Linked DNA regions of Homo sapiens: regions 2 and 3 are each linked to region 1. Evidence: fine-mapped expression QTL. A gene starts in region 1. Each other region holds a variant in brackets. All regions are shown on one strand. Distances are between the middles of the regions.

Region 1 (4,225 bases):
GTTCAAATGATTCTCCTGCCTCAGCTTCCCGAGTAGCTGGGACTACAGATGTGCAGCACCACGCCTGGCTAATTTTTGTGTGTTTTTAGTAGAGATGGGGTTTTATTATGTTGGCCAGGCTGGTCTCAAATTCCTGACCTCAGGTGATCTGCCCGCCTTGGCCTCCCAAAGTGCTGGGATTACAGGTGTGAGCCACCATGCCCGGCCTGGACTAGTCACATTTCAAGTGCTCCACAGCCACATGTGGCTGGTGGTTCTTGTACTGAACAACGCAGTTCTACAGGGGACTAGCTCTTCAAATGTAAGCTAAAAGAAAGTAATTAGTTCCTGGCCGGGTTTGGGAGGCCGAGGCGGGCGGATCACGAGGTCAGGAAATCGAGACCATCCTGGCCAACACGGTGAAATCCCGCCTCTACTAAAAATACAAAAAAAAAAAAAAATTAGCCGTATGGTGGCGGGCGCCTGTAGTCCCAGCTACTCGGGAGGCTGAGGCAGGAGAATGGCGGGAACCCGGGAGGCGGAGCTTGCAGTGAGCAGAGATCGAGCCACTGCACTCCAGCCTGGGCGACAGAGCGAAACTCCGTCTCAAAACAAAACAAAAAACACCAATTAGTTCCTGAGCTCATTCCCTCATTCCTCAATTATGCCCACACTGCCATGGGTGTAACATACACCTATCCCAAGTATGTTCAGCTTATGCTACAAAACCAATTTCTCAAAATTCTTATTTTTGAAAGAATTTGTAAGGCACAGAGGAAAAACCTGGGAATAATTGGTTTTGTAAAGCTTTCAAATACTCCACTGCCAAGAAGAAGACTGCAGAAAGAAATGTCATCCTTTAGGGGAGAAGAAACTTAAGAATCCCTGCTAAGAAAACTACTCCAGTTTGTGTGTATGTGTGTGCGTCCGAAAGGGGGGAAGGTGGCTGGCAAGGGATTTCTATTCTCAGGAAAGAACCAGTGTATCTTTATATGATCTGAGGCCCACAGGCCATCTGCTCCAGACTGAATTCAATTAAACTTAGGATATCTGAAGTCAAATATCCTAATGGTGTTGATAGGGCTTAAGGAAGTTAAGATTGGATGGGGGAAACAGGGATGGGGCTGGGGGAGAGGGAGAGAAGATGTACCCCAACGATGTAACCAAGCTCAGTTTCGGGGACTGGATCTCTGAGAGGTGTCCACAGTGGAGGACAAGGGGCTGACACGGACGCTAGTGTTCCCTGGGGCAGAGATACACAATTTTTATACGTGGCTCAAAAGAAAGGGTGGCTGTGACAGGCAAAAGACCCAAAGGGCAATACCAGAGCTGATGGGCCGGCCTTCGGGCGGACGTACCGCGGGCCGAAGGGTCCAGGGGTCTCTTGGGGGTCCCGGGGAGGTGGGCGTTGCCTCGAGGGGTGGGAGTCAAGGCCTCAGACGGTGCCCAGGTCGTGGGGCCGGCAATGTGGGGACCCCACGTCCCAGACGGGCGGCTTCCCCTGGCCCCCCCACGGGCAGGCTGGCCGTGGGTCTGGACATTACGCCGCCCTAGAGGGGTCGTGCCAGGCCCTAGACTCACCGCGCGGCTTCGGCCAAGGCCTCAGCTGCCGCCGCCAGCACCGGTACCGCCGCTTCAGGCCCCCTGCCCCACCGCCCGCCTTCCCCGCTGTCCTCTAAGCCGGGAGCGAGGGAAGGAGGGTTCCCAGCCCTGAGGACCAATCGACAGGTATAGGGAGAAGATGGACTGAAAAACAGGCCAATAGTAATGAAGAAGAGAAGCTTCAGGACCCGGCTTCTCCAGGGGGCGGGGACTGTTCAAATAGACAAACCACGCGGCCAGTGGCAGGTGAAAACAGGCTTGGGTCCACTCGGGAGAACCAATCGGTCGTGAGTTCACCTCAGTCACTTCCACTCACACATCCGGTACGGCGCTGCTAGGATTCCCTTCTGCATCCGGGCTGTGAACTCAAGGAGTCCGGTGTCTGGGTATCTCCGGATCGCAGCGAGAGCGGCTAGCAGAGGTTCGCGACCCCTCCCGGTGTAATTCTGAGAGGAGAATGTGAGCGATGCCGGTGCCCAGGAATTACTGCATCAAAAGACGTTTCGGGCTAGCGCTCTTTATGGATCCTGTGATATCTCTTTTGTTACAATTAATAAGCATTTGAAAATGTTTTTAATTAGATTCTCTAACTTTCCCAAAATTATCCAACTCAGGATCACTCCAGAGAAACCATAGCCAAGTTTTAACCAAAAGAGCTAGTCATAAATAAAAATTTTCAAAGCAACATTATTTTTTAAAAATCCTTTCAAAAAATCAATAGCTGGCCCGGCGCGGTGGCTCACGCCCATAATTCCAGCACTTTGGGAGACCGAGGCAGGCGGATCACCGTAGGTCAGGAGTCGAGACCAGCCTGGTCAACATGGTGAAATTCCCCCACCCGCACCCCCCGTCTCTACTGAAAATACAAAAATTAGCTGGGCATGGTGGCTCACGCCTGTAATCCCAGATACTCGGGAGGCTGAGGCACGAGTATCGCCTGAACCCGGGAGGTGAAGGTTGCATGCACCGAGATCGTGCCACTGCACTCTAGCCTGGGCAACAGAGCAAGCTCCGTCTCAATACATACATACACACACACACACACACACACACACACACACACACACACAACCAAAGAAAATAAATAACTGCTGGTCACGGTGGCCCACGCACTTTGGGAGGCCAAAGCAGGAGGATCGCTTGAGGCCAGGAGTTCCAGACCAGCCTGGGCAACATAGCGAGACGATGTCTCTACAGATTAAAAAAAAAAAAATCAACAGCAAAAGTGGATTTGACTACATTTTTTTTTAATCACAGTGCTATTTGTCATAGTAAACACTGAAAATTCCTAAATATTTCAAAGTAGGAGTCCAATAAAATATGATGCATTCGTTTGGGCGCGGTGGCTCACACCTGTAATCCCAGCACTTTGGGAGGCCGAGGCGGGCGGATCATGAGGTCAGGAGTTTGAGACCAGCTTGACCAACATAGTGAAACCCCGTCTTTACTAAAAATACAAAAAAAAAAAAAAAAAGGTAGGCGTGGTGGCAGGTGCCTGTAATGCCAGCTACTCAGGAGGCTGAGATAGGAAAATCCCTTGAAGCCAGCAGGCGGAGGTTGCAGTGAGCCGAGATCGCGCCACTGCGCTCCAGCTGGGGTGACAGTGCGAGACTCCATCTCAAAAAAAAAAAAAAAAAAAAAAAAAGATGCATTCATAATAAGAAAAATACATAGCCATTAATAATTATAATTTAGAGCCTAGCATGGTGGCTCATCCCTGGAATCCCAGCACTTTGGGAGGCCGAGGCAGGATTGCTTGAGGCCAGGAGTTCCAGACCAGCCTGAGCAACATAGTGAGACCCTTGTCTCTACAAAAGAAATTTAAAAATTAGCTGTGTGTGGTAGCACATGCCTGTAGTCCCAGCTACTTGGAAGGCTGAGGCACGAGAATCACTTGAGTCTATGACTTCAAGGTTGCAGTCATCTGTGATCTCCACTGCACTGCAGCCTGGGCAGCAGAGAAAGATCCTGTCTCAAATAATAATAATAACAATAAATAGTGGTAATTAGATGAATATTTGCTAAGAAGGAAAAGGTTCACAACTAGTTTAAAAATTACAAGTTGTGCAACAATGTAAGTATAATACAACCATTTACAAAAATATTTATGCATTTCTTATATGTCTCTGTTTACATGGGGGAAATGTGCACAACTAAGATGTAATTTGGGAAAGACACACTTTTTTTCTTTATACATTATCAATTACTTATGTAATAAAAACAAGTGAAGGTAGAAGAAATGAGTTTTCAGAAGGTCTAAACTGCCAAATTAAAGATAGTTGGGCTGGGTGCGGTGGCTCACACCTGTAATCCCAGCACTTTGGGAGGCCAAAGCAGGAAGATTGCATGAGCCCAGGCATTTGAGACCAGCCTGGGCAACATAGTGAGACTCCATCTCAAATAAATAAATAAATAAACAAATAAAGATGTCAATATTCCGTGGCTAACAAAATGCTTTGTTTGGCAGGGTTTTTGTTGTTGTTGTTGTTATTGTTAATATCTATGATATTGGCCAGGCACAGTGACCCAACACTTTGGGAGGCTGAGGCAGGTGGATTGTTTGAGCCCACCTGGGCAACATGGTGAAACCTCATCTCTACAAAAAATGCAAAAAATTAGTTGGTGTGGTGGCATGCACCTGTGG
Region 2 (4,183 bases), 220 kb before region 1:
GGCCTTGCCCCTCTCCGGGCCTCAGTGCCCCATCTTCAAAACGGGGGGTGAGGCCAAGGAGCCTGTGGCCCCATGGAGGAGGCTCCCACAGACCTGGGGTTCATGAGGCTGTGAGGAGGGTAGGCAGAGAGGAGCGCACCCCGCCGCCTCCCGACCCTCCCACCCCAGAGACACGTGGCAGCAGGTGGGGTGGGGCCAGGTTTATTATTGGGTCCATGGTGGGTGAATGGGAGTTGGGGCACAGCCATCTCAGCCCAACCCGGAGCTGAGGCCAGCAGGCTGGCTCTGGCTTCTGACCTGCTGGGCAGGCCGGAGCTCCAGGGGAGGCTAGAGGCTCTGCTCTGGAAGAGAGATCAGAGAGGCAAGGAGAGACACCGAGAGGGAGAAACCGAGTCGGGGGAGGCAGGGTCAGCGCCAGCAGGTGGGGCTGCCCACGCCCCAGAGCACTGGCCCGTCCCACAGTGCAGGGAACCAGGGAACCAGGTCCCAAGGAACGAGGGCTAGATACCCCCGACTCTCCCGTGGCTACATGAGGGGTTCCCAGAGCCCAGGTGGAACCAGGTACACAGTGGGATGTTAGAATTAGTCTCAGTCGCTAGGGCAGGGTGGCACTGATGAGCCTGGCTGCTGAGAGGGGAAGCAGGGCTGAGAAGGGGAGCTGGAGGCAGCAGGGCCTAGAAGCACCCAGTGTCCAGGGCCCAGGCCCTCCGCACCCCTGGGCAGAGCAGCAATGGCCCTGAGGAGCCCCGGGTATCCCAGGAGAGGGTGCGTTGGGGCCCAGGCAGCCTCCCTCACCTGAGCAGGTGCGCTTGTTACGGTGCAGGACGTAGCCTGCGCGGCAGGAGCAGTAGAAACCGCCCAGGTGGTTGTGGCAGTGGTGGTCGCAGGTGGGCGCCTCTCCCGGGGCCACCTGGCACTCGTCAATGTCTGGGGGAGAGGCAGGGCCAGGCAGGCCGTCAGGAGGGAAAGAGGCGGGATCCAGCCTGGACTCCTCCCAGGAGATCCATGACCTCAGAGTGGACCTCAGAGGAGGCCTCGTCCTGTCTAGGGTGCGGGACTGGTGCCGGGCCAATCACCTTACAGGCCTAGGGTCGCTGCAAGCTCCCAGCAGCGCTGGGAGAAAGATGCAAACATCACCTCTGTTAAACCAGTGGGAGTTTCAGTGTCCGGCCCGAGGTCACCCAGCTAATGAGGGGAGTCAATCAAACCCAGGGGGCGGGGCTACAGCGCTGAACCCTTGCAGCAGCTTCCTAAGGAGCAGAGAAATTGAGCCACTTGCCAGAGGTCACACAGTTGGTCTCTGCAGGGACTGGGATCTGAAATCAAACATCCTGGCAGCGCTCCCGCTGGCAGGGCCCCACTTTGTCAGCTGTAAATGGGGCCCTCGGCCCCTGCGTCGTTTTTGTTTTTTGTTTTTTGAGACGGAGTCTAGCTCTGTCGCCCAGGCTGGAGTGTAGTGGTGCAATCTCTGTTCACTGCAGCCTCCACCTCGCAGGTTCAAGCAATTCTCCTGCCTCAGCCTCCCTAGTAGCTGGGATTCCAGGTGCGCACCACCACGCCCAGCTAATTTTTGTAGTTTTAGTGGAGATAGAGTTTCACCGTGTTGCCCTGGCTGGCCTTGAACTCCTGACCTCAAATGATCAGCCAGCCTCGGCCTCCCAAAGTGCTGGAATTACAGGCGTGAGCTGCTGCGCCCGGCCAGTCCCTGCGTCACTTGAGGCGATGCTGTCCTCAGATCCCTGGCTCAGAGTTGGCACTCAGCCCATGTGAATGGAGGTCACGGCTGTTTTGGTCTTTGCATTGTGGATGATGTCAGGCCAGAGGCCTCTCCCCTGCCCTGGGAAAGGTGGGGAAACTGAAGGCAGGGCTGCCTGGCCTAAGACAGAGTTACCCCCACAGCCAGCTGCGCAGACTGAGATGTTGCAGGACCCCTCTTGGCTCACCCTC[G/A]GCTGCATAGAAGGCCTCGAACCCCGTGAACGGCTTCTCGTTGGAGTAGTCGGAGCGGAAGGTAATGTCCAGGCTGGAGCCCAGCGAGTAGAAAGTGTCCTTGCCAGGGGCCCGCTCCGTGTCTGTGCTCTCCTGCCCGCACAGCGTGGCCAGCACCTTGGCCCCCGAGCTCAGCTGTGGGGTCAGGTGTCACAGGGAGTGAAGGCAAGACCCAGGCCTGATCTCCCTCCTGGCCAAGCCTGGCCCCTGCTCCCAGGTGTCCCTGAACCCTGGCTACTCCTTGGGGACCCCCCGACCCTGAGAAACCCCAGCCCTCCCGTCCTGACGGCACCTTGACGAAGTCGTACTCGCAGAGGTGGGAGAGCTCCAGGTCGAAGTGGGTGAAGTAGAGGCGCAGGCGGTAGCCGGGGGGTGCAGTCAGGGTCCAGCGCCGCTCCTGGTCATTGGCATACTCCCCTGGAAAGCCGGGGGATGCCAGGCGCCCGAACACAGGTTCAGGCCACTTCGGGCCCAAGGGGGTGGCCACCGAGCCACACAGAAGGCCCAGGAGGGTCAGCAGCCTATGGGCAGGGCAGGGGCGGTGAGGGCCCAGGCCTGTGCTCCCACCCCACACCCTGCAGGGAGGCTGTGGGCGCCCACCTACCTCATGGTGTGCCCGTCCAGCTGGCCTGGCCTGGTCTGCAGCCCTACGCTGGTCTCACCTTTGATCTGTTTGTCCAGTGACCTGCCCCTGCCCCCAGCCTCCCTGACTCTGGGATTCTGGGAATCGACTCCATGACTCCAGCCTGCTCAGAGTTCCAGGCAGGCAGGACAGGCTGCTCTGGGAGCCAGGAGTCGGACCTAGGTAACAACAGCCTGGAAACAAATCCTGGCTCTGCCCCTCACCCCTCCCTTTTTTTTGGATCTTGTTCTGTTGCCCCGGCTTCAGTGCAGTGCTGCAATCATAGCTCACTGCAGCCTCTACTTCCTGTGTTCAAGCAATCCTCCCACCTCAGCCTCCCAAGTAGCTGGGATTACAGGCGAGCACCACCACACCTGGCTAATTTTTTATTTTTGGTAGGGATGGGGTTTCTCCATGTTGGTCAGGCTGGTCTTGAACTCCTGCCCTCAGGTGATCCACCTGCCTTAGCCTCCCAAAGTGCTGGGATTACAGGTGTGAGCCACCGTGCCCAGCCTCAGGCTGGCTAATTTCTTAAACCCTGTCAGAAGGACCTGGTGCCACCAATTCCCGATTCCCTTGCAGGCTTAGAAGTCGCTTTTGGCTGGGCTCGGTGGCTTATACCTGTAATCCCAGCACTTTGGGAGGCCAAGGTGGGTGGATCACGAGGTTGGGAGTTTGAGACCAGCCTGACCAACATGGTGAAATCCCATCTCTACTAAAAATACAAAAATCATCCAGGTGTGGCAGCGCGCACTTATAATCCCAGCTACTCGGGAGGCTGAGGCAGGAGAATTGCTTGAGCCTGGGAGGCGGAGGTTGCAGTGATCCGAGATCGCACCACTGCACTCCAGCCTGGACGACAGAGTGAGACTCCACCTCAAAAAAAAAAAAAAAAAAAAAGAAGTTGCTTTCCAGGCAGTTATTTCACACCTGTTTATCTGTTCTTCCAGCTTCCAGAACTTTGAGGCTGCTGCTTCCTCTTCCACACTCTGTCCTCATGGATTCATGTCTTGTCTTTTTTTTTTTTTTATCCCCTTTATATTTGTTTTTGTTTTTTGTAGAGATGGGGGTCTCCCTGTGTTGCCCAGGCTGGTCTTGAACTCCTGAGCCAAAGCGATGCACCTGCCTCAGCCTCGCAAAGTGCTGGGATTACAGGTGTGAGCCACCAAACCTCTGCCTCCGGGGTTCGAGCAATTCTCCTGCCTCAGCCTCCCGAGTAGCTGGGATTACAGGCATGCGCCACCACGTCCGGCTAGTTTTGTATTTTTAGTAGAGACGGAGTTTCTCCATGTTGGTCAGGCTGGTCTCGAACTCCCAACCACAGGTGATCCACCCGCCTCAGCCTCCCAAAGTGCTGGGATTACAGGCGTGAGCCACCATGCCTGGCCTATTTTCTTTTAGAGACCGGGACTCTGGCTGGGTGTAGTGACTCCTGCCCATAATCCCAGGAGGCTGGGAGGCTGAGGCAGGTGGGTCGCCTGAGACCGGGAGTTCAAGACCAGCTTGGGCAACATAGCAAGACCTTGTCTCTAAAAAAAAAAAAAATTTTTTTAAATTAGCCAGGCATGGTGGCAT
Region 3 (4,225 bases), 61 kb before region 1:
AAATGGCAGATGGGGCACAAACAAGAGAAGGCTGTGTGGATGCTTCTCTCCTCCCACCAGCTGGTTCCCTGTCAGCCTCCATCTGGACAATGGGGAAAAGTCTCACCTTGTCACTGTGTTCCATGAATTCAGCCAAGTTTAAGAGGGTCTGTGTGACTTCAGCGATGTCTTGTGAGGTGAGGGCCAACTCGATGCTTCTGATGAGCTCATCCTGTTGATCTTCATTCAGTTCAGACCAGCAGGACACAAATGCAGCATTGAAGAGATCCCTGAAGGCAGAGAAGGTGGAAAATGGAGAGACCTCCCGTGCCTCTGCCTGCTGCCTCAAAGTCACACCTATCAATTCGCTTTTGGCATCACTGATTTTGGTTATACAAACCAGTGCTATACAGACCAGTGCTGTCCAAGAGAATTTTCCTGTCCAATATGGTAGCCAGTGATCACTAAAGCACTTGAACTGTGGCAAGTGTGGCCAAGGAACTGAATTTTACATTTTATTTATTTTTAATTAACCACATATGGCTAGTGTCTACTGAATTTTACACTGCAGGTACAGACATTGTGATATTCAGGGACTTGGGGGGCGAGTGGCAGGGCGGGGAGAAGAGCAGAGCAAAGTGACTTTTCTCCAAAGGAATATTTCTTGGCAGTTTTTGCATTATTTCTCTTCACTGGAGGAAATGGGAAATGAACAGTATAGGGACTTCTAACATAGAAGTTGGCATTAACAAATGCAGAAAATAATAATCATTAAATGATTCTTGGGATGTTTCTGGGACAATGTCTAAATTCTTAAGGTCAGAAATGTCAAAGGCAGCATCTGCAATTGCTTTCAAAATATAACCAGAATCCTTAGTTGGATGGTCATAAAAAATGACAACAGGACTAGAAGCATTAGCAAATAGGATCCAAATCCTTAAGTTCTAAAAGATTTTCTAAGCCAACAGTTGGGGCCTCACAAAGACATGGAACCAGAGGTTCCATTTCAAAGATTACTATGACCACTTTACATTACCACAGTACCACATGATGGACACATTTGCCATCCCTTACATCTAACATTAATTCTGTCCTCCCCACTGTTCTGGTGACTGTGCGGGGAAGGAAATGGGAAAAAACAGGATATACCTACAATGGATAGATTTAGCATTTGATGCCTCTATACCTATTTTCTGTTACATATTAACAGGTTAAGTTAGACCAATGTGTATAATTTTGGAATTTGATAGAAAAAACAAAATTTGAAATCCAAAGGATCAAATGAAGACCAAAAAAAGTCTGTTATAAATTTAAAAATAAGGCCAGGCGTGGTGGCTCACGCCTGTAATCCCAGTACTTTGGGGGGCTGAGGCGGGCGGATCACAAGGTCAGGAGATCGAGACCATCCTGGCTAACATGGTGAAACCCCGTCTCTACTAAAAATACAAAAAATTAGCCGGGCGCGGTGGTGGTGGCCTGTAGTCCCAGCTTCTCAGGAGGCTGAGGCAGGAGAATGGCTTGAACCTGGGAGGCAGAGTTTGCAGTGAGCCAAGATCACACCACTGCACTCCAGCCTGGGCAACAGAGCGAGACTCTGTTTCAAAAAAAAAAAAAAAATTAAAAGTAAGTTTTCGGAGCCAGGTAATTACAGTCGCTGGTCATCCTGGTGACTTGGGAGGCTGAGGCAGGAGGATCTCTTGAGATTAGCAGTTCAAGACCAGCCAGGGCAATAACCAAGACCTTCATCTCTAAAATCATAAAAAAAGTTTTCCTGATCTAGGTCAGAGGCCACATTGGATCTTGAATGAACGTATTTGGGACTAAGGGGATAAAAACATTGTGTATATCACAAGCCTCTCATGGATAACACTGTGCTCAGAGGTGACTGGAGAGAAAAGAGGAATAATAAATACATCAGCTGAGTACATGATATCTCCACACTACGGAAACAGGGAAGTCCTAGAAACTATTTTAAAGCATTAAAAAATACTTGAAAGAAATTAGAGGATGCAAATCATGGCATCAAACCAACAGTCTCAGGGGCCATCACTACTGCTAAATATATATCATAACAGCAAACCAGCTGCTGACAAAAATGAAGTGAAATGCCTTGCTTTCTGCTTCTTGCCAATGCGAAGGGCTGCTTATTAATTAAATCACCATTTTATGCCTCATTATAAATAATTAATATCCAATGCAGAAAAATTTAAGAAATAAAGAAGAGAATAAAAAAGAAAATAATCACTCCTTAAGCCTTCCCTAAAGATAACCATTGCTATATTACTTTCTAATCTTTATCCTATTCACATTTATTTTAATTTTCAATTTTGTATTCCATTTTATTTACTTACATTATATTATAAATCTTTCACATGCATTAGAAGTTTTATAAACCAAAAAAAAATTTTTTTGAGATGCAGTCTTGCTCTGCCATCTAGGCTGGAATGCAGGGGCACGATTGTGGCTCTCTGCAGCCTCTAAACTCCTGGACTCAAGTAATCCCCCCGCCTTAGCCTCCTGAGTAGCTAGGATTACAGCTTCATGCCACC[A/G]CGCTTGGCTAATTTTTCATTTTTGTAGAGATAGAGTCTCGCTAGGTTGCCCAGGCTGGTCTTGAACTCTTGGCCTCAAGTGATCCTCCTGTCTCAGCCTCCTAGAGTGCTGAGATTATAGGCAGGAGCCACAATGCCCAGCCTGTAAACCAAATTTTAAATGGCTGTTTAAGATTTACTATTTAGGCCGGGCACAGTGGCTCATGCCTGTAATCCCAGCACTCTGGGAGGCCGAGGTGGGCAGATTGCGAGGTCAGGAGATCGAGACCATCCTGGCTAACATGGTGAAATCCCATCTCTACTAAAAGTACAAAAAATTGGCCAGGTGTGCACCTGTAGTCCCAGCTCATTGGGAGGCTGAGGCAGGAGAATGGCTTGAACCTGGGAAGTAGAGGTTGCGGTGAGCCAAGATCGCGCCACTGCACTCCAGCCTGGGAAACAGAGCAAAACTCCGTCTCAAAAAAAAAAAAAAAAAAAAAGATTTACTATTTAAAACAATATTTTTTTTGGCGGGGTTGAGGGATGAGAAATTACCTGATAGGTACGATGTACACTATTATTCAGGTGATGGTTCTACGAAAAGCCCAGACTTCACCACTATGCAACATATCCATGTAACAAACCTGCACCTGTACTCCAAAATCTATAAAAATTTTTAAAAATTAAAAAAAAAATGGTGATGACTCATGCCTATAAATCACGGCACTTTTGGAGGCTGAGGCAGGATGACTGCTTGAGTCCAGGAGTTTGAGATCAGCCTGGGCAACATAGTGAGACCTCGTCTCTACAAAAAATAAAATTAGCTGGGCCTGGTGCGTGTCTGCAGTCCCAGCTACTCAGGAGGCTGACGTGGGAGGATCACTTGAGCCCAGGAGGTTGAGGCTGCAGTGAGCCGAGATCGTCCCACTGCACTCCAGCCCGGGCAGCAGAGACCCTGTTTCCAAAACAAAAACAAAAACAAAAAACCAGGCGGGGCGTGGTGGCTCACGCCTGTAATCCCAGCACTCTGGGAGGCCAAGGCAGGTGGATCATTTGAGGTCAGGAGTTCAAGACCAGCCTGGCCAACATGGTGAAACCCCACGTCTACTAAAATTACAAAAAATAGCCGGGCGTGGTGGCGTGTGCCTGTACTCCCAGCTACTCGGGAGGCTGAGGCAGGAGAATCGCTTGAACCCAGGAGACGGAGGTTGCAGTGAGCCACAATTGCGCCACTGCACTCCAGCCTGGGTGACAGAGCAAGACTCCATCTCAAAAACAAAAACAAAAATGAAAACAAAAAAACCAACCAAACAACAACAACAAAAAAAGATGTCTAAAGTGATGAATATCCCAATTATCCTGATTTGTTTTATTACACATTATATGAATGTATCGAAATATCACATGTACTTTGAAAATATATGTACATCTATTATGTATCAATAAAAAAAATTTTGGCCAAGTGGCTCATGTCTGTAATCCCAGCACTTTGAAAGGCCAAGGTGAGCAGATCACTTGAGGCCAGGAGTTGAAGACCAGCCTGGCCAACATGGCGAAACCCCGTCTTTACTAAAAATACAAAATTAGCTGGGTGTGGTGGTACACACCTGTAATCCCAGCTACACGGGAGGCTGAGGCAGGAGAATCTCTTGAACCAGGAGGCAGGGTTGCAGTGAGCCACAACTGTGCCACTGCAGTCCAGCCTGAGCAACAGAACA

Alleles and levels. Positions count from the first base shown, and alleles are read on the strand shown. Sizes are in standard deviations (SD) of each study's normalised expression. Not every link is listed here.
As copies of A replace G in region 3, the expression in activated naive CD4 T cells of the gene that starts at base 1,667 in region 1 goes down (large effect, 1.0 SD a copy in Schmiedel 2018).

Evidence for each region. PIP is the estimated chance that this variant, and not a neighbour inherited with it, causes the effect.
Region 2: its variant is the best candidate, but not a certain one, in a credible set for the expression of MTOR in whole blood (TOPMed, PIP 0.50).
Region 3: its variant is the best candidate, but not a certain one, in a credible set for the expression of MTOR in activated naive CD4 T cells (Schmiedel 2018, PIP 0.62).

Annotation. Positions count from the first base shown.
Region 1 is chr1:11,260,885-11,265,109 of GRCh38, forward strand. It overlaps MTOR (mechanistic target of rapamycin kinase), which reads right to left and starts at 1,667. Exons shown (of 58, transcript NM_004958.4): 1 at 1,561-1,667. RefSeq lists a silencer at 1,385-1,434 and an enhancer at 1,855-2,014.
Region 2 is chr1:11,044,613-11,048,795 of GRCh38, forward strand. It overlaps MASP2 (MBL associated serine protease 2), which reads right to left and starts at 2,627. Exons shown (of 11, transcript NM_006610.4): 1 at 2,591-2,627; 2 at 2,279-2,507; 3 at 1,944-2,121; 4 at 796-927. The coding sequence starts at 2,595. RefSeq lists an enhancer at 1,132-1,964. The variant G/A (reference allele first, on the strand shown) is at 1,948.
Region 3 is chr1:11,199,435-11,203,659 of GRCh38, forward strand. It overlaps MTOR (mechanistic target of rapamycin kinase), which reads right to left. Exons shown (of 58, transcript NM_004958.4): 27 at 107-269. Among named protein-coding and RNA genes, the nearest start is that of ANGPTL7, 12 kb to the left of the region's middle. The variant A/G (reference allele first, on the strand shown) is at 2,529.